Regions from separate parts of the Homo sapiens genome. Here all the other regions are linked to region 2. Evidence: fine-mapped expression QTL. A gene starts in region 2. Each other region holds a variant in brackets. All regions are shown on one strand. Distances are between the middles of the regions.

Region 1 (5,257 bases), 29 kb after region 2:
CTCATCTTCTGCTCTTCCTCTAGCCTGAAAGCCAGAGCTGAATAACAGAAGCTATTTTATTTCAAATATGCCACAAGGCCTACAAGAGATTTAAACTGCTTTATAAAAACACTTGGCAGGCACTATCCATTACAAATCAACATTATGATACCTGATAGTCACTGAAATGAATTCAACAATGTCCCAAGGGAATGAAATCTTTTTCAAAACACTTGGCAGTTTGTGTCCTTGTCCATAACACAGAACCCCACATCTTTTGCCTTCCTATTTTCCATTCAGGGACGTTCAGCATGTGGCAGGTGGGCAGGAGCCCTTTAGCTTTGCTCCAAAGAGAAGCATCTTAGACCAAGTGAGAAGAGATTCTCCACATCCTCACCAGAACTCTGCCTGGTCTTTTCCAAACACACGCTAATGAGTGCTACGAAATTTGTGTGGTTATTTAGGCTGAGTGTTCAAGCCCACCAGCTGACTTACTCTATAAGGGAGGCTGGACATATCAGTACTTACACCAGAGACCTAGAAAGTAGTCAGACAGCATCAAATTAACATCTGTGTTCTAGCCAGGTGGTTACATACAGCTCTACCTTTCTCTTTATCTTGATTTCTTGCCAATTCGTTGCCATATATGCCTCCTGGAGCTGTTTAAGGTAGAATGCAAGATTGCTTCTGCCCAATCAACCCTCAACACAGATATCGTTTTCAAGTACACGTGTTTCTGATACCTTTCCAATGGTCAGCCAAGTTGATGTAGAAGAGGAGTCCACAGAAAAGCAGAAAGGCAAGGAGGAAGAGAATCATATTCCGCTGCAATCTCGACAGTTGCTTCCATTTCTAAGGGAGGTACAGAGAATGACATTTCTTACTGAATATATCACACGGAACGTCTCAACTGTCACAAACTGTGAGGACAATAAGGAATTCTTCTGGAAGATCCAGTGTTCAGCTCTATTTCTTTTTTTTTTTGGAAACAGGGTCTCATTCTGTTACACCTAGGCTGGAGTGTAGTGGGTGGAACGCGGGATGAGCCACCGTGCCCGGCCAGCTCTATTTATTTTGAATGGGGAGAAGTTCCCTCTCAGCAGGGAGTAGGAACATTGCTGGGACAATACTACAGATGTCGTTAATACAGTGGTGCAGATGAGACGAGGATAAGAAAAAAGCAGAAACATTTCTGTCACATTTCATCAACAGTGGAGAAAGACTCCTGCGACTCCCACAGATGTAGCCCAGGCACCGCCCAGGCGATGCACAGTCCGCATGTGGTTATCAATGCCCTTCGGCCTGAGACCACCACGAACAGACCAGGAGCCAATCAAGAGGGGCTCATTTCTCACTGTACCGAGGGGAGCATACACCACGGGGAACCTCCGGTTTCCGCTCCAAGAGGGGCAGGCGCCTGGGCCAGGACCTTGCAGAAAAGCGAACGAAGCCCAGAAAACCTGCTGGGGCTCTGAGCCCTCTTCCCACCACCGCCCCGCAGAATTTGGGCCGCTGAGACCGCTGCAGGCGAGCCGCCCACGGCTGCCCCAACCAGGAACGCACATTTGCCCCTTTTTGCGGGGAAGGGGTGGAGAGGGCGGCGCCTGGGGAGTCGAGTCCGCCCGCCCAGGTCCCGCTCGGAGCCGCAGTCTGGGAGGGCGGCGGGCACGGCAGCCCCGGGCCCCAGTCAGCCCGGCGCGACCCTCACCCTCCAGCACGAGCGCCGCCGCCAACTCTTGCTGTTGTCATAGTTCTCGCCAAAGCTCAGCGTCACCGAGATGAAGTCCCGATGAGGCGGCGGCGGCGGCGGTGGGTACATGACTACAGTGGTGGCGACGGCCCAAGGGGCCCCGCCCACTGGCGGCGTCAGGAAGTCCGACTGAGAGGAACCGAGAGCTCCGCTTCTCCTGCCCTCGCAGGCAGCCATCGCAGCGCCGTCAACAGCCCGCCCATCACACGGATACGCGACTGCGCGTGCGCTGCGTCTCTATGCGGCCAGTGCGCCCGCGCCTGTCTCCGCTGCGCTCCAGCGTACGGGGCTGCGTCCTACGGCGACTGCGTCAGACAACTGCTGCGACTCCGCCCTGCCCTCAGGTTCATTGCGCATGCGTCCGGCAGCGCCTGCCCAGGTGTGCTACGAGCGTAGCTGTAGCAACGGGGCGGGCCTTGGTTCGCCTGGGGCGTGGTCGCTGTCTGGGGCTCCCACGTGGTTCGCCTCATGGGCCTGGAGCTGGGCTTCTCTCGCCTCCTGTCGTCTGGCTGCACCGACTTTGCCCACGCCCTCACGGGAGACGCAGACACTAGGGACCCGGGGAGGCGCCCGGGCGGGGCCGCCATGTTGGCAGAGAGTCCCAGCGTCCCGCGCCTCGGTTCCGGAACCCGCGGCGCGGGGATGGAGCTGGGCTGCCCTTGGGCGCCGTCCTGGGCTGGTGCCCACCCTGGCCGCGTGGTCACCGGCAAGAAGCCCAGGGCCTCACCCAGGCGTGGGGGCCGGGGGAAGGACCGGACCCTCCCGAAGTCGCGGACCAGGCCGGGCGGCACCCGGGCTGGGGTGGCTGCTACCCCGAGCTAAGCTGGCTGCGCCGCATCTCACGGTCCCCGGGGCCCGAGCGCTGCGCCTGGACCGGCGCCGAGCGAGGCGGCCAATCGGCCGGCTGGACCCACAGTCCCCGCGCCATAGGC[G/T]GGTCGGGGCTTTCAGACCCGGCTCCCAGCCCTCGAACTCGGTAACCTTGGAGGTCAGCTTGAGATGACTGCGCTTCCTGCACGCGTTGTCCTCCCCAGAAACGCCCAAAATGGCAAAGCGGCGTCCGTGGCCGCCCGAGGCCCTCCCTGCCTGGGTTCTCCCCAGCCGAACCTCACGCCCGGCCCCTCCTTCATTCTCTCCTGGCCAGGCTGCTCCTGCCCTTGGGCGAATCCGCTGCGTCCCACGGTCCTGACTGTGGCATTTCTGCGTGTCTGGAGAGCTCCCCCGGCAGCGACGTCCTGCTTAGCACGTGGCTCGTCTAACTCTGTTCCCCTGGCCTCCTGCTCTTCTAGGGGTCATCTTTAGGTTTCTGCTGGTCTCTGCCCCCTGTGACACTTGCTGGTACCCAAATGAAGTCGTTTATGTCACACTCTAACAAGAGGCCCTGAAGAAGCCCTCACAAAAACATTAGCAACGGAGCGCCTGCGGCAAACCCTTCTAACCTTTGGTCTTTATGGTTTCAAAGCAGTTTATGGGAACTTCTCTTTTTTAAAAGATTCCCCTTGGGGCCAGGCGCGGTGGCTTCTGTAATCCCAGGACTTTGGGAGGCCGAGGCAGGTGGATCACTTGAGGTCAGGAGTTCAAGACTAGCCTGGCCAACATGGTGAGACACCCGTCTCTACAAAAAACACAAAAAAATTAGCAGGGCATGGTTGGTGGCAGGCACCTGTAGTCCCAGCTACACGGGAGGCTTAGGCAGGAGAATTCCTTGAACCCAGGAGGTGGAGGTTGCAGTGAGCCGAGATGGCACCACTGCACTCCAGCCTGGGCAACAGAGCAAGACTCTGTCTCAAAAAAAAAAAAAAAAAAAAAAAAGAAATTTCCCGTGGGCGGGGCACAGTGACTCATGCCTGTAGTAATCCCAGCACTTTTGGAGGCCAAGGTGGGCAGATCCCCTGAGCTCAGGAGTCCAACCTGGGCAACATGGTGAAACCCCTGTCTCTACAAAAAATAAAAAAATGAGTCCAGTGTGGTGGTGTGCACCTGTGGTCCCAGCTACTCTGGAGGCTGAGGTGGGAAGACCACCTAAGCCCCAGGAGGTCGAGGCTGCAGTGAGCCATGATTGCACCACTGCACTCCAGCCTGGGCAACAGAGTGAGATCCAGTCTCAAAAAAAAAAAATTCCCCCTTTCCTCAATCCCCACCCCACCCCCCCACCACATGCCTGTGACCCACTGAGGCTTGCATACTCTGCATTGCAATTATGTGTTATTCTTGATTAAATTCATTTATTCTGGAGAGCCTGAGTTTCTCTTTAGGTTGACACCACTCACTCTTGTCAGTCCCTGGAGTACCCCAAGCATCCTCACGTGGTTAGCAGGGAAACCTTGGCATCTCAAGGATGCAGGTGCAGGAGAGCGAGTCTCCAGGCTGTCAGAGCTGAGCATGCAGAAGCCTGCCCTGGAGAGCGCCCCGAGGTTCCTGACCGCAGGTTGTCTCAGGCCCTCCTGAGACCCTGGTGAAGAGTGGGATGGGACCGCGGGGGGATTCCTTGGCACCCCAAGTAGTCTTGGCCTTCATGTGTGAACTCCTGTCCCTAAGGGGGCCCCCAGTGAGCTCCAGCCCTGGGACACAGCTGTGAACACCTGATCCTTGTTCCCAACACCCGTGCACTGCCCAAAAACTGCACTTGCCAGAGTAGCAGTCAATTACGGCACCTTGTGTTTATTGGAAATATTCCACCTACAGAACATTAAGATGCCAGCAACCGGCCCGGCGCGGTGGCTCACACCTATAATCCCAGCACTTTGGGAGGCCGAGGTGGGTGGATCACGAGGTCAGGAGATCGAGACCATCCTGGCTAACACGGTCAAACCCCATCTCTACTAAAAATACAAAGAATTAGCCAGGCGTGGTAGTGGGTGCCTGTAGTCCCAGCTACTAGGGAGGCTGAGGCTGGCCTGGAGGTTGCAGTGAGCCAAGGTCACGCCACTTCACTCCAGCCTGGGCAACAAGAGTGAAACTCCGTCTAAAACAAACAAAAAAAAAGACTTCACCCAACTAACTGTGCTTGTGTAGAAAGAGGTTGCATCCCTGTTCCAGTCATGGCCATGAGGAACAGCTATGAGAAGGGCCCTAAGGCACAGCATGGTTTGCAGTAAGAAGGGCAGAGCCAGGGAGAGAGAAGTAAACATCATCTTCTGGGCTTTGGTTTCAAAAATCACAAGGTGTGGGCCTGAGCCTGCTGCCTGCCCAGGTCTGGGCGCCTCCACTCAGCCACTGTCCTCCCAGTGCCTCTAAATCTGGAAGGCTGCATCTGAACCTGCCCTTCCAGACAACACCCCTCCCCTGGGAAACCAATGGGGATGAGTAGTGGCCCTCCACTGGGGACTGTGGGTTTCGAGGTGGGGGCAGAGGATGAGTTGGCAGCAGTGGCATATCATAGCTCTCTTCATGTCAGCAGGGAGAGGGAGGTGCCACTGCCTCCCCTGAGATGAGAAAGCAGGCGAGAATCACCAGGGGAAGAACCCTGGGGCAGCTGGCTTGTCCCAGCCATGCCTGAGTGCACCAAATATGGAGGCTGCGTCCTCACTC
Region 2 (5,257 bases):
GCCCGTCTGTGCTGCTCCGGGGATGGGCAGAGAGAGATCGGGGGTGTCTGCACAGGCATGGGCAGCCTAGGCTCACTTGCCCCTTGGGTGACCTACTGTGCCCTGCACAGGCTGACGAGGGCCCTGGCGATGCAGACCTGGGGTCCTCCTGCAGAAGTTGGGCCCCTTCACATGTCAGGTTGCTGTGCCAGTGAAGGGGTGGCCAGCCCCTCCACACCTGTGGGTGTTTCTCGTCAGGTGGGATGAGAGACTGAGAAAAGAAATAAGACACAGAGACAAAGTATAGAGAAGGCAGTGGGCCCAGGAGACGGCGCTCAGTATACGGAGGACCCGCACCGGCCCCGGTCTCTGAGTTCCCTCAGTATTTATTCATTACCATTTTCACTATCTTTGCATGAGGAATGCGGCAGCAGAGCAGAGGTCAGCAAGAAAATGTGAGCAAAGGCATCTGTGTCACAAATAGCTTGAAGGGAAGGTGCTGTGCCCGGATGTGCACGTAGGCCAGATTCATGCTTCTCTCCACCCAAACATCTCAGTGTAGCAGAGTAACAGAGCAGCATTGCCGCCAGCATATCTCGCCTCCAGCCACAGGGCGGTTTTCTCCTGTCTCAGAATAGAACTAATGTACGATCGGGTTTTACACGGAGACATTCCGTTCCCAGGGGCATGTCGGAGACAGAAGCCTTCCTCTTATCTCAACTGCAAAGAGGCCTCCCTCTTTCACTAATCCTCCTCAGCACAGACCCTTTATGGGTGTCGGGCTGGGGGACGATCAGGTCTTTCCCTTCCCACGAGGCCATATCTCAGGCCGTCTCACTGGGGGGAAACCTGGACAATACCCAGGCTTTCTTGGGCAGAGGTCCCTGCGGCTTTCCGCAGTGCACTGTGTCCCTGGTTAATGGAGAATGGAGGATGGCGATGACTTTTACCAAGCATACTGCCTGCAAACACATTGTTAACAAAGCACATCCTGCACAGCCCTAAATCCCCTAAACCTTGAGTCAATACAGCACATGTTTCTGTGGGCACAGGGATGGGGCTAAGGTTACAGGTTACCAGCACAGGCCTAGATGCCTTAAACCTTGATTCCATACAGCATATGTTTCTGTGGGCACAGGGATGTGGGCAGGGGACTGTGGCCACCCTCACCCCTGGCAGAGCCATGCTGGGTAGCCCCATGCCCACCCTTCCCGGCTTGGGAGGCCCTGGCTGCTGCCCAGAGGGGCATCAATGCCTGGGCCGTGGACAAGAGGGAAAGTGGCTTCCTTGGAAACCCTGCTCCTGGAGCCCTCCCTGAGGCTCTGGCCCCTCTGTGGGCCCAGCCAAGCCTGGAGCGTCTCCAGGCTCTGGTGTGCTTGGGGAGCTGGCCAGCTCTCGGCCTAGCTGGCGTCTCCAGAGCTGCGGTCCTGGGTGAGGGTTGCTGGTGGAGTTCTGGCCACCTAAGGCACCCGAGGGAGCCAAAGGAGCAGAGGTGTGGGGTGGGGGACGCCGTGGGGTACCTCCACATCCAAGGAGGTCTGCTGTTTGTCCTCACCCCCGTCCTGCGGGGGCCCCGGCAGGCAGCCCCAGGAACTGCGTAGGGATGGGACAGGGCCCAGATGTGAGGGCCGTGGTGGGGACGGTGTGTGGCCCTGGATGACCTCGTGTTGCAGTGTGACGTGATGGTCACTGCCACCATGCTGAGGGCCCCAGCCACCAGTCACCCACCATGGGGGGTGCCTCTGTGTGAGGCACGGGAGGGCCATGGCGTGAGGGGCTGTGGAAGTGGCCGGTCTTCTCCGCTCAGCCCCACACAGGATGGGCAGGGCAGGGTCATGCTGGCCGAGGGTAGTCTTGGGAGAAGGACAGGGTAACTCTCTGTAGCTGAGCCCCTGCTGCCCCTGCACCTGTTCTGGGCCTGGCTAGCGGCCCATGTACATCCCCAGCAGGACTCCACGTAGCTAGTCTGGCACCCACCACTACGGCCCCCTCACCCACTCCCTGAACTGGACGCTGGGGAAAGGTGACTTCTTCCATCCTCTGGGTGCTCCCCAGGGAGGAGGCCCCAGCTCCCAGCAGAGGCCTCTGGTCCCCCCTTGTCCCTGCAGGGCTGTGTGGGCACACTGGGTGCCAGTCGGAAGGGCAGGTGGCGATTCCCAGCTCTTGGGAGCTACCCGGCCACATCCCGGCCCTGCCCAGACGCTCCAGGGGCACCCCACACTCCTGCCCGCTGCGAGGCCCCGCCCCGCCAAGCCCAGCCCGTTATCGCTTGGACAAACCCTGGGTTGCTTTCTTCGGGGGGCCAGCACTCTGTTTGGGACCCTCTCCCTCCCGCCCTTAGGGCAGCAGAACGGCCCCCACTCTCCCGGCCCTGCCTTGGAGTGGGGCACCTGCCAGGAGCAAGTGCTGGGGAGGCTTGGCGGGCGCAGCAGGGACTCGCCCTAGCGCAGCTCCGGATGGGGCCGCGGTAGGAGGACGAGCCAGTGGGGCGGGAGGCCGCGGAGATGGCCCGGGGGCCCTCTGCTTCCCCGCGCCGTGCCCGGGAAGGACCCCTGGGCAGCGGCCGCGGGGCGCGGGGTGTTGGGGGGCACAGCCCCGGCGCGGCGCTGAAGCAGCGACGGTCTCCGTGGGGACCGCGGGCGCCCGAAACACGTGGGGCCTGGAGGGAGGAGCGCGCCCTGGCGGCCCCGTGACCCCGCCCACGTGACGGGCGCCCGCGGAAGGCGACATGGGCTCCGCTCCCTGGGCCCCGGTCCTGCTGCTGGCGCTCGGGCTGCGCGGCCTCCAGGCGGGGGGTGAGTGGCGGCGCCCCCCGGCCCATTCCCCGGTCCCGGCCCCGCCTCTGAGGTTCGCGTCCCCCCACAGCCCGCAGGGCCCCGGACCCCGGCTTCCAGGAGCGCTTCTTCCAGCAGCGTCTGGACCACTTCAACTTCGAGCGCTTCGGCAACAAGACCTTCCCTCAGCGCTTCCTGGTGTCGGGTGAGACCCCGGCCCCGGCCCGGCCGCCCCCGCCGTCCCGCCGCCCCCCGGCACCCTCGCCTCATCCGCCCTCCCCACAGACAGGTTCTGGGTCCGGGGCGAGGGGCCCATCTTCTTCTACACTGGGAACGAGGGCGACGTGTGGGCCTTCGCCAACAACTCGGCCTTCGTCGCGGAGCTGGCGGCCGAGCGGGGGGCTCTACTGGTCTTCGCGGAGCACGTGGGTGCCGGGCGGGGTCGCGGGCGGGGTCGCGGGGCACGTGGGTGCCGGGCGGGGTCGCGGGCGGGGGTCGCGGGGCACGCGGGTGCCGGGCGGGGTCGCGGGCGGGGGTCGCGGGGCACGCGGGTGCCGGGCGGGGTCGCGGGCGGGGGTCGCGGGGCACGCGGGTGCCGGGCGGGGTCGCGGGGCCGGGCTCAATGGCACGTTCCCCCAGCGCTACTACGGGAAGTCGCTGCCGTTCGGTGCGCAGTCCACGCAGCGCGGGCACACGGAGCTGCTGACGGTGGAGCAGGCCCTGGCCGACTTCGCAGAGCTGCTCCGCGCGCTACGACGCGACCTCGGGGCCCAGGATGCCCCCGCCATCGCCTTCGGTGGAAGGTGGGCGCCTCCCCCGGCCTCCGCACCCCCTCCCTCCCCTGCCCCGACCCAGCGCCCCCAGCCCTTCTCCCCACTCCCCTCTGACTCCCACCGCTGCCTTTTCGTAAGGCCTCAGGCAGTGGTTCCAGGCTTAGTGTTGCCTCCCCCAGGAAGCCCTCCCACCTGTCCTCCCAGCCACCTGCTCAGCTTGGATGTGCGGCCACACTAGCGGCCTTTCCCAGTGAGAGCTGCACCCGCACCTGGCCCAGGGTTGGAATTTGTGGGTCTCAGAAGTGTCGTCCTCCTTGTGGCACCTGTGGGCCCCTGAGGAGGAAAAGAGGAAATGGGGTGTTGGGGGCAGCAGCCCTAACCCTGTGTCCCTCACCCAGTTATGGGGGGATGCTCAGTGCCTACCTGAGGATGAAGTATCCCCACCTGGTGGCGGGGGCGCTGGCGGCCAGCGCGCCCGTTCTAGCTGTGGCAGGCCTCGGCGACTCCAACCAGTTCTTCCGGGACGTCACGGCGGTGAGTGAGGCTTGGGGTCCTCCAGGCCCCCTAAGGGACAGCAGCTGCAGTCAGCACGGTCTCTTTCCCCCAGGACTTTGAGGGCCAGAGTCCCAAATGCACCCAGGGTGTGCGGGAAGCGTTCCGACAGATCAAGGACTTGTTCCTACAGGGAGGTGAGGTCCTCCCACCGCCTCCCACTGCCTGACCCGCCCCAGCGCCAGCTATGCCCAAACTTCAAGTCTCTGCCCCTTCCACGCAGCCTACGACACGGTCCGCTGGGAGTTCGGCACCTGCCAGCCGCTGTCAGACGAGAAGGACCTGACCCAGCTCTTCATGTTCGCCCGGAATGCCTTCACCGTGCTGGCCATGATGGACTACCCCTACCCCACTGACTTCCTGGGTCCCCTCCCTGCCAACCCCGTCAAGGTGAGGCGCCGCCTCCCAGGGCGCAGGGAGAGGCCGGCTGGAGTGTCCCGAGGCTGGTGGTCAGCGGCCTGACCCTCATCCTGGGAGCCAGGGAGGCGGAGCTGGTGGAGGGGACCCCGCTGAGTCGCCGCTGCCCCTGCACTCCAGGTGGGCTGTGATCGGCTGCTGAGTGAGGCCCAGAGGATCACGGGGCTGCGAGCACTGGCAGGTGCCCTTCCCCCGGCCCCAGATGGGCAAGTGTGGAGACCCCAGGCTTGGCTTGGGTCCTGGGGCCGGGTGGGGCGAGGATCCGCAGCCCGGCCAGGGGCTTTGCCTCCTGCCCCAGGGCTGTGGTGGGGTGGACAGCACGACCTTCCCAGAAACCCTGGGGGAGGCAGGGGCCGTCCCTGGGGACCCTCTCAGCACTGGCTGTAGCCAGGCCCAGCTTGGTGGGTGCTGCCCAAGGGGCCCCTGGGGTCCCCAGCATGGAGGGCAACAGAGGGCAGCAGGCCCCACCCTGCCCCGTGGAGAGCGGGGGGGCCCTCAACAGTCAGGCCCGGGGCTGGCAGCACAGACACCGCCGACCTCCAAGCAGGTAGCCTGGAGGGCCTTCCTCACTGGGACCTACAGATCCCAGAGCCCCAGATCCCCTGCAGGACCATTCCGAGGGGGGACAGGTTGGTGGCCGGAGCCCGCGGTGTGTCTGTGTGTGGCCGCTGGGCCCCAGCGCCTCTCCTCCCCAGGGCTGGTCTACAACGCCTCGGGCTCCGAGCACTGCTACGACATCTACCGGCTCTACCACAGCTGTGC
Region 3 (5,257 bases), 840 kb after region 2:
TCCCAGAGACCGGATGATTTATAATGACCAGAAATGTATTGGCTCACAGTTCTGGAGTCTGGGAAGTCCAAGAACAAGATGCCGGTGTCTGGCAAGGGCCTTCTTGCTGCATCAACACAGAGAGGAAGGCAGGAGGGCGAGAAGGAGAGAGGACGACGGGGTGGGACTCTTCCTTTTATAGTGAACCTGCACCCACAATGATGGCACTCATCCATTCACAAGGGTGGAACCCTCATGGCTGAATCGCCTTGTGGCTGAATTGCCGCCTCATGGCTGAATTGCCTTGTATTTCAACATGAGGAGGGACAAATGTTCAAACCATAGCAGCACCTTTTCTCTTCCCAGAAAGTGCAGCCCAGGGAGGTGCAGCAAGCTTCCCAGAGTGCCCGGGTATGGGCTGGGATGGGGCTCCGTTCTCCCACTGCTGGATTTGCTGACCGCCCTTCCTGAAGGCTGGATGGGCAGGGGCTGGCTGCTGTGAGTCACAGACAGTTCCAATGGCTGCAGGACAGCCACGTCTTGGCCAGGATCTCCCAAGGGGGTGAGGTCAGAGTCAGGCTCTGCCTCCTCCTTGGAAGGGGCAGCCTGAAGGGGCAGTTTTTACCCCTATACCTCATTCACCATCCTATGGGCGGAATGTGCAGTAGCCCCAGGGGGACAGGCAACAGGAGTCTGTTGGGTCTAGTTTTTATGACTGGAGGCAGCACTGTCCGAGAGAATCTTCTAGACATAAACACTTCCACCAGAGCTGTCCAATGGAACCTTCTAGACTTAAACACCCAGAGCAGAGCTGTCCAGTGAAACCCAGACTTAAACACCCAGACCAGAGCTGTCCAATGGAACCTTCTAGACTTAAACACCCAGACCAGAGCTGTCCAATGGAACCTTCTAGATTTAAACACCTAGACCAGAGCTGTCCAATGGAAGCTTCTAGATTTAAACATGTAGACTAGCTCTGTCAATGGAACCTTCTAGACTTAAACACCCAGACCAGAGTTGTCCATGGAACCTTCTAGATTTAAACACCTAGACCAGAACTGTCCAATGGAAGCTTCTAGACTTAAACATGTAGACTAGCTCTGTCCAGTGGAACTTTCTAGACTTAAACAGGTACACCACACTGTCCACCAGAACCTTCTGCAATGAGGGAAATGTTCCGGATTCTGAGTTGTACAATATGGTAGCCACCAGCCACATGTGGCTGTCAAGCCATGAAATGTGGCCAGTGTGACTGAAGAGTGGCATTTTATGTTTTATTTTCTGTTAAGTTTAAATGTAAACGGTGGGTGTGGCTGCCAGCCGCCATGTTGGACAGCAGGGCCCTGGCTCTCAAACTCCACAGCCCCCACTGAGGGTAAGGGTCCTGTCAGCCTCATTCTGGTTTGAGGCTGTGACTCCCCAGGACCCAAGCCACATGACTGAGAACGTAGCTAGTTAACATCATCACTACCAGCAGTGACCGCAGCTGCCATGTGCCAAGATCTGTCAAACTGTCCCATTGCATCCTCACAGCTACCAGGGACTTTGGGGTGGCACGTGGGGCTAGACTTTTGGGGCTCCTCACCCATTGCTAGAGGAGTCAGGGCACTCACTGGGGTGACTCCTGCAGTCTCTGTCCAGCCAGGGCCGTGCCCAGCTCGGGGACGGCTCGCTTTCTCCGGGGTCACAGCTCAGAGCTCAGGAACAAACAGCTCATGTCCCCCCATGTCCTCTGATCTGTTGGGTGCTGACATGGCCGGTGATGACCAGGACTCCCCCTCCTCAGGCCACAGCTGGGAGATCTGTGGGGGCCGCAGGACTGTGGGGCTCCCAGGAGCCAGAGGGGCATTTGGTGGGGCTGGGGACCCTTCTCTGGCTTCAGCCTCTCTCAGGGCCATGAAACAAAAGCAAAAGATGGTTTCTTCCCTTTGCAAAAAAGGAATTTCAGCTCAGAACAGACACCTGAACCCAAACAAAGAAGTGTAAGAGTGTCTTCACTTCCCATCATCACCAGTTAGATGGGGGCCACGGGGGTGACCCCGAATGCTCAGTGCACGCCAGGTGGCCAGGCGCCCCTGCTGCTCACCCTGTCTCGGTGCTTTGGGGTGTCCTCTGCTGCTGTGGAAACGCCCAGGAACCGGCTTAGCTGTGGTTCATGGCTGAGCTGCTCCGTTCCGGGAAGGCGAGCAGTCCACTGGAGGAGCTGCCGGTTCTGGGACAGTCGGAGTGGGGATCCTGGTCTTGGCTCCATCCATACACCAGCCAACAGTGACCAAGGCGCTCATCCACAAGCCATCACGAGGGCCCCACCATCTGCAGACCCCATTGCATGCAGCACCTCCTGGTGGCAGCCTCTGTGGGGCCAGGAGCTCCAACAGCATTCAGAGTCAGAGCTGGGACTTGGGGCCACCAAGGAGAAAGGGAAGCCCCCTCCGCTGCTGCTGGGGACTTCACTATCCAAGGAAGAGGCTGAGGTTTTCATACCCAAGCTCTGGACCAATCCCAGAAATTCCAAGGAGAGCCCTGGACTTGTGCCAGGTGCTTACATCAGCACCCACCCACCCTATGAGCACCCACCCACCCCCTCAGCACCTGCCCACCCCCTCAGCACCCACCCACCCTGTCAGCACCCGCCCACCCCATCTGCACCCACTCACCCCCTCAGCACCCACCCACCCTGTGAGCACCCACCTGCCCTGTCTGTATCCACTTACCCCCTCAGCACCCACCCACTCTGTCAGCACCCACCCACCCCATCAGCACCCACCCACCCCGTTCACACCCACCCCGTCATCACCCACCCACCCTGTCCACACCATCAGCAGCAGCTTCTACCTGCTGAGTGCACAGCCAGCCTGTACCAAACTATCTCCTTGGACCCTCACACAAGGGAAGGAGGAACCTCTGTGTCCCCACTGGGCTCTGACTGACAAGTGATTTGTTCAAGGTCACATGGCAAATGCATGACAGACCCGGTCTGTCTGGGGGCAAAGCCCATGTCCTGGGCCTCCGCCCTCCCCACAGACTCCTGCCA[T/A]CCATCCTGGAGTTGGTCCTGGCCGGGGTCAGGCAGAGCCAGCCTTAGCAGGGACGAGGAGATGCAGTGGGTCTCCGTGTCCTTCCGTGGGGCTGCAGCCCTCCCAGCCCTTCCTCGACATGCAGGGCAGGGGCTCTTGTTGATGGAGTTGATGCCAGCTGGGCTCAGGACTCAGGCCACCTGCACTCCTGGCCTCTGTGCCTCAGTTTCCCTGCAGGTGGAGAGGCTGTATTAACCTGTCATGCCATGGTGCACTAAGGCAGCGGCGAGGGGAGGCCGGGAGAGCGGCCTGGGCCACTCAGCTATCCCCCTCCATGGTTCCACAGGTCAGCAGGAGGACCCATGTGTGAGATGCCTTCCCAACACCCAACAGAAGACCTCCAGCTTTCTGGATTCTCTGAAGGTTTGCCCAAGGCCGATGACAGCTGGGTCCCCTTTCTGCTAGGTGGTGAGCCGGGAGCAGCCTCTGTCTCCCAGAGGCCAAGCAGAAGTGGCACTAATGTGCAGACTATAGAATTTAGAAACAGAGTGGCCGGGTGAGAGGGAGGGGAGCATGCAGGTGGGAGGAACAGACAGAGGGCGCCTGGCCTTCCCGGGCTGATGGGGAAGCCCCTGGCAGGGAGAGAAAGTCGGGGGGCTGGAGGGAGGGGCCCTGCCCAGACATAGGATCCCTTGGGGTGACCCCCGAGGAAGGGGCCCACCCTCCCTGGCTGGGGGCAGCAGGAACCGTGAGCTGTGGGCTCTCCCTGCAGCTGGACCAGCAGAAGCAGGCGTTGGCCCTCCTGCGGCAGCGGGCAGAGCTGGAGGCCCGGGAGACACAGCAGACCCTGGATGGGCTGCTCTTCAGGAGGCGGCTGGAGGTAGCAGCCGCTTGCCACAGGGGGAGCCCCTGTCTCTGCAGGAGGTTGGGTGGGAAGGTCAGTCACACTGGGAAGGAATGCGGAGACTTCCATAGGAACAGTGGGTGCCCCTCGTCAAGAGGAGGCAAGCCAGAGGCTAGAGCTCCCTTTAAAGCAAAGTCTCTATGCAGAAACAGGAGGTTTCAGCCACATGTGTCCTGGGGGCGCTGGCACTGGGGGGTGCCCCAGCGGGAACCAGAGCTGGGTCACAGATGGCCATTGGAGCCTCCCACCTGTCCGTGTCCCAGGCTTGGTAGGCCCCTGAGCCCTGGGCTCTCCATGGGAGCATGCAACCCAAAATGCATGTGGTGCTTACACCCCCGGCAGGTCTCTTGCCAGACAGGAAGGAGCTTAGTGTCTCCTGAGCCACCTCTGCCGGGCCGTCCTGCACCAATAGTGTCCCCTCCGAAAGGCAGCTCCCACTGCCCGGGGTGGCTCAGCACCTGCCCCATGAGGGGACAATGTCACCCAGTCCGAGGAGCGGTGACCCTGGCAGGGGATTGATCGGGTGGCTGACGGCTGTGACCTGGCTGGAGGGGATAAACCTTCTGGGAGGTGGACCTTTCTTCTGTGTTTGGTTCAGGGGTCGATGGTGGGAAGTACATCCACGGTACATGTTGGGGGGCATCTCCAGGAGAGTGATGGAAGTATGTGCGTGCACACGTGTGGGTGTGTGCACGCGTGTGGGTGTGTGTGCACGTGTGTGTGTGTGGGAGTACACATACAGGCAGCCTCAGACCGACAGCAACAGAGACACCCTGCCCTGTGTCCCTGCCTGTTCCCTCCCTGCTCCCCGCATCACAGGATTTGCTCCCCTCCTGTGCCTGCCCTCCCAGCACCCCCAGCCGGGACCGGAGCTGGGGTTTCCTTCCCACCCGTCTCCATGCAGCTGGTCCCCCAGCTCCCACACCCTCCAGCCCTGGCGGGGCACTGGCCACCCCTGCTTCCTTGCAGTGGCCTCTCTGGGAGGCAGAAGGGGGCTGTCGGCCCCACTTGCAGGATGGACAGAGAGGCCCCTGAGGTTGGAGACTTGCCCAGCTTCAGGCTCCTCCTTGGGACTGGGCTTGGCCTGACCGCCCCGACCCAATGCCCACAATTGTGGAGCCGCCTCCTGCATTCTCCGCAACACACCTCCCACTCCTCACAGCAGCTGATGGAGAGACACTCGACCCAGGCCAGGCCAGAGGAGGCGTTGAAGCTGGAGCAGCCTCCGATGTGCAAGGACCGAGAGCCGACCACAGCCTCTCAGAGCACAGGGATGGCCACACCCAGGTGAGGTCGGGGGCTGGGGCTGGCCACCCCCTCCCAATGTGGAAATGCAGGTTGCAGAGTCTCTGGGCACAGG
Region 4 (4,190 bases), 100 kb after region 2:
ATGTGAGTGTCGGAGGGGCAGGGCGGTGGGCATCTGCTGACCAGAGCAGGAGTCCTAGTCAGGGCAGGGTGGGGCCCCTGCAGAGGGCGTGGGGTCATGACCCCGCCCACCTACCCAGGTCCATCCTGACCGGCCTGTTCCCTCCAACGTCGGGTTCCGCCACCATCTACGGGCACGACATCCGCACGGAGATGGATGAGATCCGCAAGAACCTGGGCATGTGCCCGCAGCACAATGTGCTCTTTGACCGGCTCACGGTGGAGGAACACCTCTGGTTCTACTCACGGCTCAAGAGCATGGCTCAGGAGGAGATCCGCAGAGAGATGGACAAGTGGGTGGGCTGGGCGGGGGGCGGGGCAGGTGGGCGGAGGCCCTGGGGCTCTGCATAGCAGCAGCCCCATGCCCCACCTCCCTGTCCCAGGATGATCGAGGACCTGGAGCTCTCCAACAAACGGCACTCACTGGTGCAGACATTGTCGGGTGGCATGAAGCGCAAGCTGTCCGTGGCCATCGCCTTCGTGGGCGGCTCTCGCGCCATCATCCTGGACGAGCCCACGGCGGGCGTGGACCCCTACGCGCGCCGCGCCATCTGGGACCTCATCCTGAAGTACAAGCCAGGTGAGTGGGGTGCCGTGTGGGCAGGGGTGCGGGCGGCGCCTCCCCTGCCCCCTGACCCTGGGTCTGGCCTTGTCCTAGGCCGCACCATCCTTCTGTCCACCCACCACATGGATGAGGCTGACCTGCTTGGGGACCGCATTGCCATCATCTCCCATGGGAAGCTCAAGTGCTGCGGCTCCCCGCTCTTCCTCAAGGGCACCTATGGCGACGGGTACCGCCTCACGCTGGTCAAGCGGCCCGCCGAGCCGGGGGGCCCCCAAGGTCTGTGTTGAAGCTGCCTGAGCTGGCTTCGGGCCACCTTCTCCCCGGGACCCCCACCTGAGAATCCACAATGGAGAGGCTGGGCCCTCACCGTCACCCGCTGGGCCCAGGATGCCTGCTGGGGCCTGGCCCGCCCTCTGCAACGCCCGTATCTTGGAGAGGCTGGGTCCTCAGCGTCACCCCCTGGGCCCAGGATACCTGCTGGGGCCTGGTTCTTCCTCTCCAATGCCCATATCTTGACCCAGTTGGGTTCCCATTGGGGGTCCCTCCTCCCAGCCCCTGAGTGAATTCCTTCCTGCTCCCACGTCCCCCACAGAGCCAGGGCTGGCATCCAGCCCCCCAGGTCGGGCCCCGCTGAGCAGCTGCTCCGAGCTCCAGGTGTCCCAGTTCATCCGCAAGCATGTGGCCTCCTGCCTGCTGGTCTCAGACACAAGCACGGAGCTCTCCTACATCCTGCCCAGCGAGGCCGCCAAGAAGGGGGCTTTCGAGCGCCTCTTCCAGGTGTGAGGGCGCACGGGTCGGGGGGCAGTTGCAGGTGGTGGAGGTGGGCGCACTCCTGCCTGGGCGTCCCTGCCGCAGCCTCCCCCTCCACCGCCCCTGCAGCACCTGGAGCGCAGCCTGGATGCACTGCACCTCAGCAGCTTCGGGCTGATGGACACGACCCTGGAGGAAGTGTTCCTCAAGGTGTCGGAGGAGGATCAGTCGCTGGAGAACAGTGAGGCCGGTGAGGGGCCTGGACCACTTGCTCAGCCCACCCCACCCACAAGGCCCCAGCTCGGGCCTGCGCTGTCACTCCTGCCTGGTGTCTGGGGGCGCCACCCTGGTCCTGGGTGGAAGCCAGGGGACGCCCCGGGGTTAGCCTGCGGTCCTAGGTGGGTGGTCCTGGTGGCCAGAGGTCCCGGACAGGTGTATGAGCCTGGGAACTGGGGTCAAGACCGGGGATGGGGGTCCTGGGCAGGCCTAGGGGCCAGTAGCCCTGAGTGTCCCCTCGGCCCTTCCACTGCGGCAGATGTGAAGGAGTCCAGGAAGGATGTGCTCCCTGGGGCGGAGGGCCCGGCGTCTGGGGAGGGTCACGCTGGCAATCTGGCCCGGTGCTCGGAGCTGACCCAGTCGCAGGCATCGCTGCAGTCGGCGTCATCTGTGGGCTCTGCCCGTGGCGACGAGGGAGCTGGCTACACCGACGTCTATGGCGACTACCGCCCCCTCTTTGATAACCCACAGGACCCAGACAATGTCAGCCTGCAAGGTGGGGGTGGCAGGGTGAGGCTGGGACAGCAAGGGAGGGGGAGCAGGGTTGCGGGGGAGCGGCATGAGGGCAGCCAGTAGGGAGAGGGTAGCGTGCAACCACCTGCTCAGCCTCTACCTCTCTGCACAGAGGTGGAGGCAGAGGCCCTGTCGAGGGTCGGCCAGGGCAGCCGCAAGCTGGACGGCGGGTGGCTGAAGGTGCGCCAGTTCCACGGGCTGCTGGTCAAACGCTTCCACTGCGCCCGCCGCAACTCCAAGGCACTCTTCTCCCAGATCTTGCTGCCAGCCTTCTTCGTCTGCGTGGCCATGACCGTGGCCCTGTCCGTCCCGGAGATTGGTAGGCCACCGGCTGGAC[A/G]GGGGTGCTGGGCTTGCCTCCCCCCACCGCCCGCTGGGAGCCCTGATGATGCCCACTCCTGAGCTTCCTGACTCTGGGCCTCACCCCACACCTGAGGCTGGGCACGCACCGGGGTTCATCCGGGAGTCCTGTCTCCTCGGGTCCCAGACCCCAGGCGTGGATCCCTTGGGGTTGGGGGAAGGGGACCGAGGCTTGGGGGCCGCTGGCCAGAGGGCAGAACCTGCTCAGGCCTCCCTGCTCGCCCTGCCAGGTGATCTGCCCCCGCTGGTCCTGTCACCTTCCCAGTACCACAACTACACCCAGCCCCGTGGCAATTTCATCCCCTACGCCAACGAGGAGCGCCGCGAGTACCGGTGAGGCCTCCAGCGGGGGCAGCCTTGGTGGGTGGGGCGAGTGAAGGGGCGGGGACAGCCTTGGTGGGCCAGGCGGGCGAGGGGGCGGGGCTGGCGAGGGGCGGAGACTGGCAGCCCCACCTCACACTGTCGGTGCCCGCAGGCTGCGGCTATCGCCCGACGCCAGCCCCCAGCAGCTCGTGAGCACGTTCCGGCTGCCGTCGGGGGTGGGTGCCACCTGCGTGCTCAAGTCTCCCGCCAACGGCTCGCTGGGGCCCACGTTGAACCTGAGCAGCGGGGAGTCGCGCCTGCTGGCGGCTCGGTTCTTCGACAGCATGTGTCTGGAGTCCTTCACACAGGGGCTGCCACTGTCCAATTTCGTGCCACCCCCACCCTCGCCCGCCCCATCTGACTCGCCAGCGTCCCCGGATGAGGACCTGCAGGCCTGGAACGTCTCCCTGCCGCCCACCGCTGGGCCAGGTAGTGGTTCAGGGGGCCTGCTGGGGGGGCAGGGGCAGTGAGGGGTCCTTCTCACCGCACCATGCTGTGCCCACAGAAATGTGGACGTCGGCACCCTCCCTGCCGCGCCTGGTACGGGAGCCCGTCCGCTGCACCTGCTCTGCGCAGGGCACCGGCTTCTCCTGCCCCAGCAGTGTGGGCGGGCACCCGCCCCAGATGCGGGTGGTCACAGGCGACATCCTGACCGACATCACCGGCCACAATGTCTCTGAGTACCTGCTCTTCACCTCCGACCGCTTCCGACTGCACCGGTGAGCTGGGTGGGGAGGCTGTGGGTGAGGGTGGCCGGCCACCAGCCACCTAGTCTCAACTCCTGCCCCTCTAGCCTCACTGCCTGCCTAGCCTCACCGCCCCTCCCACCTGCCTGCCCAGGTATGGGGCCATCACCTTTGGAAACGTCCTGAAGTCCATCCCAGCCTCATTTGGCACCAGGGCCCCACCCATGGTGCGGAAGATCGCGGTGCGCAGGGCTGCCCAGGTGAGCGAGGCTGCGGGCCTGGGCCCCGCTGTGTGTAGCGCCGCCCGAGGTCTGCAGGGACCCAGGTCTGAGGTCCTGGGGCCTTTCTGTGTCCTCTTCCTTCTGCAGGTTTTCTACAACAACAAGGGCTATCACAGCATGCCCACCTACCTCAACAGCCTCAACAACGCCATCCTGCGTGCCAACCTGCCCAAGAGCAAGGGCAACCCGGCGGCTTACGGTGAGCTGACATAGGCAGGGCGGGGCGGGGCGGGGAGGAGCTGGGGCCGGGGCGGGGAGGAGCTGGGGCCTGAAGCTGCCGCCCCCGCCCCGCCGTGTGCAGGCATCACCGTCACCAACCACCCCATGAATAAGACCAGCGCCAGCCTCTCCCTGGATTACC
Region 5 (5,156 bases), 170 kb after region 2:
GACGATGGGGCTAGGGAGTGGAGTCCCCTTCCTGACCTCTCCTCCCATCCTCACAGGTAGCTGAAGCCTCTGGGTGCTGGACTCCATGTTAGGGGTCACCAAGGGTGAGCCAGGTGCCTCCCACTCACCGTGTGCCTGGCCTGTGAGCCTCTGTCCAGGCCCCCCAGGTCCCTGTCCTGGCTGCCCCCTCCCACCCCAGATTCCCTGTCCTGGCCACCTCCTCCCCTCATCCAGCCCTGCTTACAAGGGACTTAGGCTCATCCCAGGAGGTGCCCTGGGCCTCGGCAGCCTGCCCTGGGTGGCAGCCCCAGCCTGGCCACTCGAAGAGCCCAGCCCCCAGGACTTCAGGGCTCCAGGGCTGGGCTCTGTCCCAGGCCTCACTGCCCACGTAGAAGGGCAGCTTGCTGTGCCTTGTCTCACCAGCACAACGCTAGCGTTTCAGGAGGCTGGCCCAGGGAAGGAAAAGTTGGAAATAATCTGTTCATTCCCCTGAACTCCCCAAGGCGCCTTCGACTCTCCACCATCCCCCTGGCCCCAGCCAGCCTAGGAGCGCCTGTCCGCAGCCCCAGGGTCCCGCTCTCAGCGCAGCAGGCACCCCTCCCGGAGCCCGTCTTATCGCAGGGCACTGGGGAGATTTGGGATCACAGCACACAGCCCATGTACAGGACAGTCCCCGCTACGGACCCCGCCCATGCAGGGCCCTGCGGGAGGAAAACCGGGCCTTCCCTGGCCAGCCCGAGACCCACAGAGACTGAGCAGCAGAGGTCGGGTGGGCCGAGTCCTCGACACAGAGGAGGGTCCCTCGGCTCCAAGCAGCGCCTCAGGCCCCATGCTCCCTCCCCCAGACCCACTCCTGCCGCCCTGGGGGGTCTGTGTGTGCCTCCAGGTAGCCACTGGCTGCTGCCGTTAACCTCTGTGCCCCCCACGTCCCCTGCAGGAGCCTCCCGGACACGACAATGGGTTCGGCGCGCCTCCTCCCCCCACCGCGGGGCAGACGCAGGTGCTGCTCCTCCCGTCTAACGTGATTGGTGGAGGGTGGGCACGTGACCTCCGCCGCCCAATCAGGGCCCTGCAGGTGCCTTTGCCTGGCTGGGCCGGCGGCGCTGGAACGGGCCGTGCAGGACGCGGGCCTTGAGGCACCTGCGGGGCTCCCGGGGGAGTCCTGGCTCTGACCTCGGCCTTCCATACCGCCTGGGGTGGGCGGGCCGGGCGCGGCAGCACACGCCAGTGAGCCCAGCGCTTTGGGAGGCCGAGGCGGGAGGCGGTGCCCGGGAGCTTGCGTGCCACGGGGAGGAGCAGCCGCGCCTTCTGCAAGGCGTCCTTGAGAGGCGGGAGGGAAACCGCCGCTTCCACTCAGCACCCTGGACCCCCAGCCCACCGTGGGGACCGGTCCCTGGGGCCTCTCCCATTGACCCCTCCCATCAGGTCCTCTCTTCCCTCTGCTTCGCTCCCCGGCACCCCCACCCCCAACCCATCGCCTTCATCTCGGCCTCCCCACAGCAACAAGGACAGACTTACCCTCCACTGCTCTTCCTCCGTTCCCGGAAAACTCCCGGCCTGTCCTCTGCTCACCCTCCCCTCTCTCTTCCCACTCTCCGGGCAAAGACCTTTTCCCAGACACGGTCCTGGGCGCTGGGAGGCCCCTTGGGGGTGGGGTGGGGGGCCAGGGGTGGTTGGGGCGTGGCTGGGGAGGAGGGTGCCTCGTCCCCACATGGAGGAGTCCTGGCCCACCTGTCCCTCTGAGCACCTGCGTGGGCAGGGAGGACGGGCACGGCACCTGCCTGTCGGCCCTGCCTGTGGGACCAGGGGCTCCCGGGGCCCCACACAGCACTCTCACGTCCAGGCAAGGCGGGGGCACCCAGGACAGTCCTGGACTCCTGACCCCGCAGGTCTTGGGCAAGACTGCTAACAATTAAATGTTAGTTTCTATAGATGAAAAAACTTTTTTTTTAAATAGAGATGAGGTCTCACTATGTTGCCCACCCAGTCAGATCTTGAACTCCTGGCCTCAAGCGATCCTCCTGCCTCAGCCTCTCAAAGTGCTGAGATTAAAGGTGTGAGCCACTGTGCCCAGCCAGTTTGCATAGTTTTGTTGTTGTTTGTTGTTGTTTTTTAAATAAATTGAGACAGAGTCTCGCTCTGTCACCCGGGCTGGAGTGCAATGGCGCGATCTCGGCTCACGGCAACCTCTGTCCCCTGGATTCAAGCGATTCTCCTGCCTGAGCCTCCTGGGTAGCTAGGATTACAGGCGCCCACCACCACGCCTGGCTAATTTTTTTTGTATTTTTAGTAGAGACGGGGTTTCACCATGTTGGCCAGGCTGGTTTCAAACTCCTGACCTCAAGTGATCTGCCCGCCTCAGCCTCCCAAAGTGCTAGAATTACAGGCGTGAGCCACAGCGCCCAGCCATTTCCATAGATTTTTTTTTTTTTTTTTTTTTTGAGACAGAGTCTCACTGTCGCCCAGACTGGAGGCAGTGGCATGATCCCGGGTCACCACAACCTCTGCCTCCTGGGTTCAAGCAATTCTCCTGCCTCAGCCTCTGGAGTAGCTGGGATTACAGGCGCCTGCCACCATGACCAGCTAATTTTTGTATTTTTAGTAGAGACAAGGTTTCACCATGTTGGACAGGCTGGTCTTGAACTCCTGGCCTCAAGTGATCCACCCGCCTCAGCCTCCCAAAGTGCTGGGATTATAGGCGTAAGCCACCACGCCCAGCCAAATTATGCAAACTATTTTAAAGAACAATGATTCACACAGAGCTATCGTGATTTTATGTAGTGTTTGAAATTTAACTAGAGCTCATTCAATGCTTCTGTGAAAATGAAATGCCTTGTAATCCTTGCGCTGCACATCCTCTGGTCCCAGAGCACACAGCCAAGTGGCCACGCACTTCACTCAGTGCGGGAACCCACCCAGCCCTGCAGTCAGAGGCGTGGAGGGTCAGGCTGGGCCACTCTGCCACCAACCACAGCACCCAAGGTCATCGGGTGGGTCTCTGGCGCCACCCCTCGGACATTCAGCCCTCCCTGAAGCTTGTGACCGTGGCCAGCTACCCGACTCCTCCTGCCCCCAGATGAGACCCTCACTTTCTGTTTGGGGGATGTGGGGCCAGGCATGGAGGAGGCTTTCCTGGGGCTCAGGCCTAGAGTCTTCCCGGCGTTGCCAGCTCTGAACCCTGAGCCCTTCTGCTGCGCCCTGCTATCTCATGGGTCTCTGGGACATGGAGCTGGAGTGGGGGAAGGCGATGCAAGGGTACGACCTCCTGGGCCCTTCTCCTTCCCAGGTCCCGGCAGTCAGGGCCCCTGCCTCCCCTTCCCACCACCTGACTTGCCTGCCCTCCTGGGGTCTAGCAGCTTAGTGAACAGGTGGGCACGGCAGGGGGAGCCCCGCCCGTGGGATGGGGACCCCCCTGAAGCAGCTGCTGGCTCCTCCCTGCCCCCACCCAGGCCGTGTGCTTTGGGACCAACTCCAAGGTGCCTTCTCCTCCCATCCCTGCCCACTGTGGCCGATTGGTGGCTGATCCCTGGACTTGTAAGTTCCTAGGGGGAGGGACCAGCCCACCTGGTGGTCCCAGGGCCCAGCACACAGTGGGCCTTCAGAAATGCTTATCAAACAAATGCCAGTGGCCGCA[G/A]GCAGGGCCTGAGAGGAGCAGCTTAGCGGCCAGGTCCAGGCCCAGCATGGTCAAGCCATGCCGGGTTCCTGATTCTCCGGCCCTAGCCCAGGGGCTGCCCCGAGGGCAGAGCTGGCCCACCCCCACATTCTCTTCTGCTTCCTGGTTTCACGGGGGACGTGGGAGTGGATGAGGTGTGCAGAGAGTGCAGTGGCTGTGGGTGGACAGCACCAACTGCTGCCACCAACACGGGCCAGCTGGTGCCAGCTCGGCTCGGAAGAGGCCAAAATGGGCAGTGACGGGAGACAGCTGGCCTCCCACGGGGGCGGAAGAGCAGCCCGGGGGCTGCAGGACAATGGCCCAGGCAAGAGCAGCCTTGGAGTGAGGCTGGACGCCCCCAGGTCCCAGCAGGGCACAAGATGGGCATATGCCAGAGAGGATCTCCCCTCCCAAATCCCAAGAGCCGCTGAAATCGGCCCAGTGCCCACTGCGTGGACTCCAGCCAACAGGGAGCGCCGGGCTTTTAAAGAGGCGGGGTGGGGGCAGAGAGGGCCTTGGTGGTACTGGCGCCGGTCCAGAGTGGACAGAAGAGTCAGAGAGGGGTCTGAGACATTTAATAAGTAGGTACCACTCCACCCACTGTCCTCTGGGGCAGCCGGCAGAAGATCCCCTGCCCTGGGTGGCAGGGCCCTGATCTGAGGCTGGTTTCACGGAGGACAGGCAGCGGGCACCCCACTGGTGGGGTCGTCTCTCGGGGCACTGACTTCTCAGCACTGGAGCTGTGTGCCGGCCTCACCTCCTCACTTCTGCAGCAGAGACGAGACTCAGCCGGTGGCAGTGGCCCCCCTCACCACGCCGCCATGCTTGCCCCGCTGTGCACTCACCGTCCAGGACGTGGAACTGGTCTGCAGCCTCGCAGAAGCCTGGGGGCCCAAGGCAGGGGTCAGGCTGGACATCAGCCCAGAGAGTGGGGGTGGCTGAGCTGGGGACCTGCTGGGGACACTCACCGTACTTGGGGAAGTAGAAGATCTGGTCCTCAGTCAGGTGGGCCTCCTGGACCCGCTGCTCAAACCCACTCAGGACCGAGTCGCTCACAGGGAGCGAGCGGGCTGCAGGGCAGACAGGGTTCCTGGGGTCCTGGCACCAGGCGGCGTGGAGGGCTCTGGAAACGGGGTCTGTGTGTCCCCTGCCCCCTCGGGGCCCTCTCCCTGCTCCCACACCAGGCCTGTCTGTCACTACTCCCTGGGCCCCTGCTTAGCAGGAGGATCAGGATGGGAGAAAGGAAGTGTGTCCCCATGGGCTCACCCAGCCCCTCGGGGTGGCCCAGTGAGTGTGCAGAGCTTGAGCGCCTGCCTGGTCACAGAGGCTGGCCCCCACATACCGTAGAGCTTCACTGACAGCTGCCCCGCCCGCTCCAGGTACAGGACAGCGAAACTCTGGTAGTCGGTCTCAGCGACAACCACGTGCACAGCCCCTCGGGCGTCTCGGGCTGGGGCAGAGCCACAGTAGCCATGTCAGAGAGCCACAGTGGCTGCGTCATCCC
Region 6 (5,257 bases), 41 kb after region 2:
GTTGGGAGGCTGGAACCAGACCAGGTTCCGGGATGCCATCCCGCGGCTTGGGGCTCCCTCCCGCACACCCTTCCTGCTTCCCATTGCCTGGTGACCAGAGCGCTCTGCAGCCCCTCGCCCACATTGTTATTTTACTATCAGGTTTTAAAATATCTTGCTTGTGGTCGGCGCGGTGGCTCAAGCCTGTAATCCCAGCACTTTGGGAGTCCTAAGTGGGGTCAGGAATTCGAGACCAGCCTGGCCAACATGGTGAAACCCCGTCTCTAATAAAAATAGAAAAATTAGCCGGGTGTGGTGGCAGGCGCCTGTAGTCCCAGCTACTCGGGAGGCTGAGGCAGGAGGCCTTGAACTCAGGAGGCGGAGGTTTCAGTGAGCCGAGATCCTGCTGCTGCACTCCAGCCTGGGAGACAGAGTGAGACTTCTCAATAAAAATAAAAATAAAATAGTTTGCTTGTGAAAAATATGAAAGGGTAGCTTCTGCCAGTTGGGCACAAAACTTTCTCCTAGAAACTATATAGTAAGTCTAAAAGTAATATATGTGACTGCATAAAAGAATTCAAATGGTGGCCAGGTGCAGTGGCTCATGCCTGTAATCCTAACACCTTGGGATACCGAGACAGGATGATCGCTTGAGCCCAGGAGTTCAAGACCAGCTTGGGCAACATGGTGAAACCCCGTCTCCACTAAAAATACAAAAATCAGCCAGGTGTGGTGGCGTGTACCTGTAGTCCCAGCTACTTGGGAGGATGAGGCACGAGAATCACTTGAACCCGGGAGGCGGAGGTTACAGTGAGCCAAGATCGCACCACTGCACTCCAGCCTGGGTGACAGAGCGAAACTCTGTCTCAAAAAAAAAAAAAAAAAAAAAACCGGGCGCAGTGGCTCACTTCTGTAATCCCAGCACTTTGGGAGGCCAAGGCGGGCGGATCACCTGAGGTCTGGGGTTTGAGACCAGCCTGACTAACATGGAGAAACCCTGTCTCTACTAAAAATAGATACAAATATTAAATATAAATATAAATATATAAGCATGGTGTTGCATGCTTATAATCCCAGCTACTCCAGAGGCTGAGGCAGGAGAATCGCTTGAACCTGGGAGGCGGAGGTTGCCATGAGCCAAGATCGCGCCATTGCACTCCAGCCTGGGCAACAAGGGCGAAGCTCTGTCTCAAAAAACAAACAAACAAACCGAAAAAGAAAAACAAATCATGCTGTTACAGGAAAGAGGTTCCAGACCTCAAGAGAGGGTTCTTGGATCTTGCGCAAGAAAGAATTCAGGGCAAGCCCATACAGTAAAGCAAAAGCAAGTTATCAGGAAAGTAAAGGAATAAAGAATGGTTTCTCTACAGACAGAGCAGCCCTGAGGGCTGCTGGTTGCCCATTGTTATGTTTTTTTGGATGACATGCTAAACAAGGAGTGGATAATTCATCCCTCCCCTTTGTAGACCATATAGGGGAACTTCCTGACGTTGCAGTGGCATCTGTAAACCGTCATGGTGCTGGTGGGAGTGTAGCGGCAAGGACAACCAGAGGTCACTGTCGTTGCCATCTTGGTTTTGGTGGGTTTTGGCCGGCTTCTTTATCGGAACCTCTTTTATCAGCAAGGTCTTTGTGACCTGTATCTTGTGCCGACCTCCTGTGTCATCCTGACTTGGAATCCTTTAACCATCCAGAAATGCAGCTCAGTAGGCCCCAGCCTTATTTTACCCAGCTCCCATTCAAGATGGAGTTGCTCTGGTTCACACACCTCTGACAGTGATCTAGGACCCAAAATGAAAACTAACATCTCCCTCATGCTGCCCCGTGGACCCCTCAGGCAGTTGTGTTTCCTTGCAGTTGGGTTCTGCCCCCACCTCCACACACATGCCCTCACTGAGTTTGGGAGGGGGCTTCACCCCTGGGGCAAGGCCCACATGCACTCTTCTGGACCTGCATGGAGTTGCTTTTCGGGCCTGCCTCAGGGTCTCTGCACTTCCTGTTCCTCCCTCCTGGACCGCTTGTCCCCAGAGAAACGTGTGGCTGGGGACGCATTTGGTCAGGCCTCAGCTCCCCAGGCCACGCCCACTCGGTGAGCACCTTCCCATCCTCCGTGCCAGGCTGCCTTTCTGCATTCTTGGCTACCTGACTCCCCTGTGAGAAGCGAACCCCACAAAGGCGGGGAGTTGCTGTTTTTGTTTTGTTTTGTTTTTTGTTTTGAGACCGTGTCTCATTCTGTCGCCCAGGCTGGAGTGCAGTGGTGCAATCTCGGCTCACTGTAACCTCCGCCTCCCGGGTTCAAGTGATTCTCCTGCCTCAGCCTCCTGAGTAGCTGGGATTACAGGCGCCCGCCACCACACACAGCTAATTTTTTGTATTTTTAGTAGCGATGGTTGGCCAGGCTGGTCTTGAACTCCTGACCCCATGATTTGCCCGCCTCGGCCTCCCAAAGTGTTGGGATTACAGGCATGAGCCACCGTGCCCAGCCCAGGCAGGGCATTGTTTAGGCCAGTGGTCTGCC[C/T]CCATCACCTCAGGTAAATGCAGCACACAGTAGGCACTCAATCAATGTTTGTTGATTGAACAAACGAGTGTTGAACCCCAGCCCACACCGTGACTGGGCAACAGCAAATGTTCAGGGAGTACCTGCTGCATGAATGAATTAATGAATGGCCTGTTCTGCTCCAGTGGTTTGTGGTGGTTGAACATCGTTTAGGTGAACGTTGGAGTTGGAGGGGAGGCTCGCGGAATCCGGTGAGCAGAGCAGGCTTCCCGCCCCAGGCCAGAGTCCATGGGAACCCTTATCACCCCTGCAGGGCTGGGCAGCAGAGGAGGCACATGTCTCTTGGAGGCAGGTGTCAGGACATGAACTGTTGGCCCTGTAGGTCAGGGTGATTCCAAATCCCACCTCAAGGTGTGGGTTGGGCTGTAATAGAAGATTTGGAAAATCAAGGTTTGTACAGCCAGAGGCACTTGCGGCACCAGAAGGGGAGGAGCGACCCTGCCCAGACCGACAGAGCCTACGGATGGGTGGGAGTGCTGGCAAGGCTGAGGTGGGCAGCAACCTCCTGGACCACCTTGTGGCCAGGCAGTTGTCTTCACAAGAGGCCCAGGGGAGCAAGGCCCTAAGGCTCAGAGGCCAGGAGTGCAGACGGGGAGCCCTGGGAGGCTCAGGGGCTGGGTGGCTGTTGCCAGTTCTTCACTTGGTGCCCACTGCTGGGGATACATCAGGGGACAGAGGGGCCGGTCTTCCTGCCACCTCTGCCCAGAGTGGTCCAGGCTTACACAGTGAGAACACAATTACAGCTAAGATGGGGCCTCCAAAAGTACAGGGACAGCATGGGACCCCCAGGGGTGACACAGCACTAAAACCTGAAGGATTGGGAAACTATCAGGCCAGCCGGAAAGTGGAGTGAAGGAGGAAGTGGTCAGAGCTCAGGACAGGAAGGACACAGGACCACATCTTAGCTCCACGCCCAAAGCCAGGCACAGCCTCCAGTCTTTTTTTTTTTTTTTGAGACGGAGTCTCGCTCTGTCGCCCAGGCTGGAGTGCAGTGGTGCCATCTCGGCTCACTGCAAGCTCCGCCTCCTGGATTCACGCCATTCTCCTGCCTCAGCCTCCCGAATAGATGGGACTACAGACGCCCGCCACCACGCCCGGCTCATTTTTTGTGTGTGTGTGTGTTTTTAGTAGAGACGGGGTTTCACCATGTTAGCCAGGATGGTCTCGATCTCCAGACCTCGTGATCCTCCCGCCTTGGCCTCCCAAAGTGCTGGGATTACAGGCATGAGCCACCGTGCCCAGCCTTTTTTTTTTTTTTTTTTTGAGATGGAGTTTTGCTCTTCTTGACCAGGCTAGAGTGCAATGGCGCGATCTTGGCTCACCGCAACCTCCACCTCCGGGGTTCAAGCTATTCTCCTGCCTCAGCCTCCCGAGTAGCTGGGATTACAGGCATGGGCCACCATGCCCGGCTAATTTCGTATTTTTAGTAGAGACGGGATTTCTCCATGTTGGTCAGGCTGGTCTCGAACTCCTGACCTCAGGTGATCCGCCCGCCTTGGCCTCCCAAAGTGCTGGGATTACAGGCGTGAGCCACCGTGCCCGGCCTCCAGTCTTTTTCATACCTTCCTCCAATACCCAGCCAGGGGCCACAGAGAAGCCCACAGACCAAGGGCCAGCTGGGGCCGCCTCCCCCAAGGCTCTGGATGGTATGAAAAGCCCTTGTTTCATCTGCACGGTGGGTTCAGTTCCATGCGGGGCCATGGCTGGCCTGGCCTGGACACTGCTGGCCACGCTGTCCTGAGCTGCAGCAGCCTTGCTCACTGCTGGCCACCGACTCCACATCCACACTGGCCTCCCCTGCCATACCACTGAGCTGTTCCCAGCCCTTCCCCATCCCTTAGGCCTCAGCCTGGCTTGGTGCCCACTCAAGGATGGTGTTTCCCATATGATTTCACTGGATACGGCTCCCCAGTGCCATTCACAGAGCACCCACTGTGGGCCAGGCCAATGCCAGGCCTAGAAGGAGCCCTGTCCTGCTTGCAAATAGCCAGGGCCCCCTGGGCCAGGAGAAAGCTGTCCCCTGTGTTTTATCTAACTAGGCTTCAGGGGGAAGGGGACTGGGGCCAGAGCAGAGTTCTGAAGGATGTAGTGCGGTCAGCCTGGAGCAGAGGGGAAGGGCCTTCCTGGTAGAAGAGCCACCAGGCACAGGGGCCTGGAAGTGAGGGAGTGCAGGGACCCCAGGCCTGGCACTGGCGGTGAGGGGTGTGCTGGAAGCAGGGTAGGTGTGGGGATGGGGGGGCGGGGGCTTGCGTGTTGTGCTGGTTTGTTTTGTTTTGTTTTGTTTTTGAGACAAGATCTCGCTCTGTCACCCAGGATGGAGAGCAGTGGCTCAATCACAGCTCACTGCAGCCTCAACCTCTTGGGTTCAAGGGATCCTCCCACCTCAGCCTCCCAAATACCTGGGACCACAGGCATGCACCACCACGCCTGGCTAATTTTTTAAACTTTTTGTAGAAATAGGGTTGCCTTATGTTGCCCAGGCTGGTCTTGAACTCCCCAGCTCAAGTGATCCTCCCGCCTCGGCCTCGTGCTGGGTTTTTGAGCAGACCAGCCATTAAAGGGGAAGCTGGCTTACAGGACCAAGCTCTGATGGGCTGCTCCAGGCTCAGAGCTTCTTATGTCCTTCCAGCATTCCCTACGATGAAGGAGTCCCACTTAGAGTGAGTGACCCAGAAGAGAAGTGGACCCAGGATACTCCCTGGCCTGGGAAGATGCCTCTAC

What was found.
Region 1: its variant is fine-mapped to the expression of DPP7 in whole blood (TOPMed, PIP above 0.99).
Region 3: its variant is fine-mapped to the expression of DPP7 in whole blood (TOPMed, PIP 0.98).
Region 4: its variant is fine-mapped to the expression of DPP7 in whole blood (TOPMed, PIP 0.95).
Region 5: its variant is fine-mapped to the expression of DPP7 in whole blood (TOPMed, PIP 0.95).
Region 6: its variant is fine-mapped to the expression of DPP7 in whole blood (TOPMed, PIP above 0.99).

The regions. Positions count from the first base shown.
Region 1 is chr9:137,083,649-137,088,905 of GRCh38, reverse strand. UAP1L1 (UDP-N-acetylglucosamine pyrophosphorylase 1 like 1) reads right to left here. Exons shown (of 9, transcript NM_207309.3): 9 at 4,368-5,257. MAN1B1 (mannosidase alpha class 1B member 1) reads right to left here and starts at 1,921. Exons shown (of 13, transcript NM_016219.5): 1 at 1,688-1,921; 2 at 723-831; 3 at 1-37. The coding sequence starts at 1,906. MAN1B1-DT (MAN1B1 divergent transcript) reads left to right here and starts at 2,089. Exons shown (of 1, transcript NR_027447.1): 1 at 2,089-3,960. RefSeq lists silencers at 1,558-1,787, 2,338-2,567, 5,153-5,257 and enhancers at 1,768-1,997, 5,165-5,257. The variant G/T (reference allele first, on the strand shown) is at 2,662.
Region 2 is chr9:137,112,164-137,117,420 of GRCh38, reverse strand. DPP7 (dipeptidyl peptidase 7) reads left to right here and starts at 2,688. Exons shown (of 13, transcript NM_013379.3): 1 at 2,688-2,774; 2 at 2,845-2,958; 3 at 3,039-3,178; 4 at 3,393-3,556; 5 at 3,925-4,060; 6 at 4,134-4,215; 7 at 4,302-4,468; 8 at 4,616-4,676; 9 at 5,191-5,257. The coding sequence starts at 2,708. It overlaps LOC124902314 (a long non-coding RNA gene), which reads right to left and starts at 2,622. Exons shown (of 2, transcript XR_007061874.1): 1 at 377-2,622; 2 at 1-250. RefSeq lists silencers at 2,463-2,812, 2,843-2,992.
Region 3 is chr9:136,274,810-136,280,066 of GRCh38, reverse strand. It overlaps CCDC187 (coiled-coil domain containing 187), which reads left to right. Exons shown (of 26, transcript NM_001378188.1): 11 at 3,340-3,416; 12 at 3,766-3,873; 13 at 5,060-5,184. Among named protein-coding and RNA genes, the nearest start is that of CCDC187, 27 kb to the left of the region's middle. The variant T/A (reference allele first, on the strand shown) is at 3,014.
Region 4 is chr9:137,012,103-137,016,292 of GRCh38, reverse strand. It overlaps ABCA2 (ATP binding cassette subfamily A member 2), which reads left to right. Exons shown (of 49, transcript NM_001606.5): 21 at 1-2; 22 at 119-331; 23 at 422-618; 24 at 697-879; 25 at 1,196-1,380; 26 at 1,483-1,603; 27 at 1,889-2,125; 28 at 2,255-2,461; 29 at 2,730-2,832; 30 at 2,975-3,291; 31 at 3,368-3,581; 32 at 3,703-3,808; 33 at 3,917-4,028; 34 at 4,131-4,190. Among named protein-coding and RNA genes, the nearest start is that of LINC02908, 13 kb to the left of the region's middle. The variant A/G (reference allele first, on the strand shown) is at 2,480.
Region 5 is chr9:136,946,031-136,951,186 of GRCh38, reverse strand. C8G (complement C8 gamma chain) reads right to left here. Exons shown (of 7, transcript NM_000606.3): 4 at 4,995-5,102; 5 at 4,621-4,722; 6 at 4,498-4,536; 7 at 4,212-4,419. The coding sequence ends at 4,406. It also overlaps a transcript of LCN12 not described here. Among named protein-coding and RNA genes, the nearest start is that of C8G, 3.4 kb to the right of the region's middle. RefSeq lists silencers at 898-1,397, 1,418-1,517. The variant G/A (reference allele first, on the strand shown) is at 3,635.
Region 6 is chr9:137,071,601-137,076,857 of GRCh38, reverse strand. No RefSeq gene overlaps it. Among named protein-coding and RNA genes, the nearest start is that of UAP1L1, 3.3 kb to the left of the region's middle. RefSeq lists enhancers at 2,193-2,252, 1,963-2,576, 5,160-5,257. The variant C/T (reference allele first, on the strand shown) is at 2,498.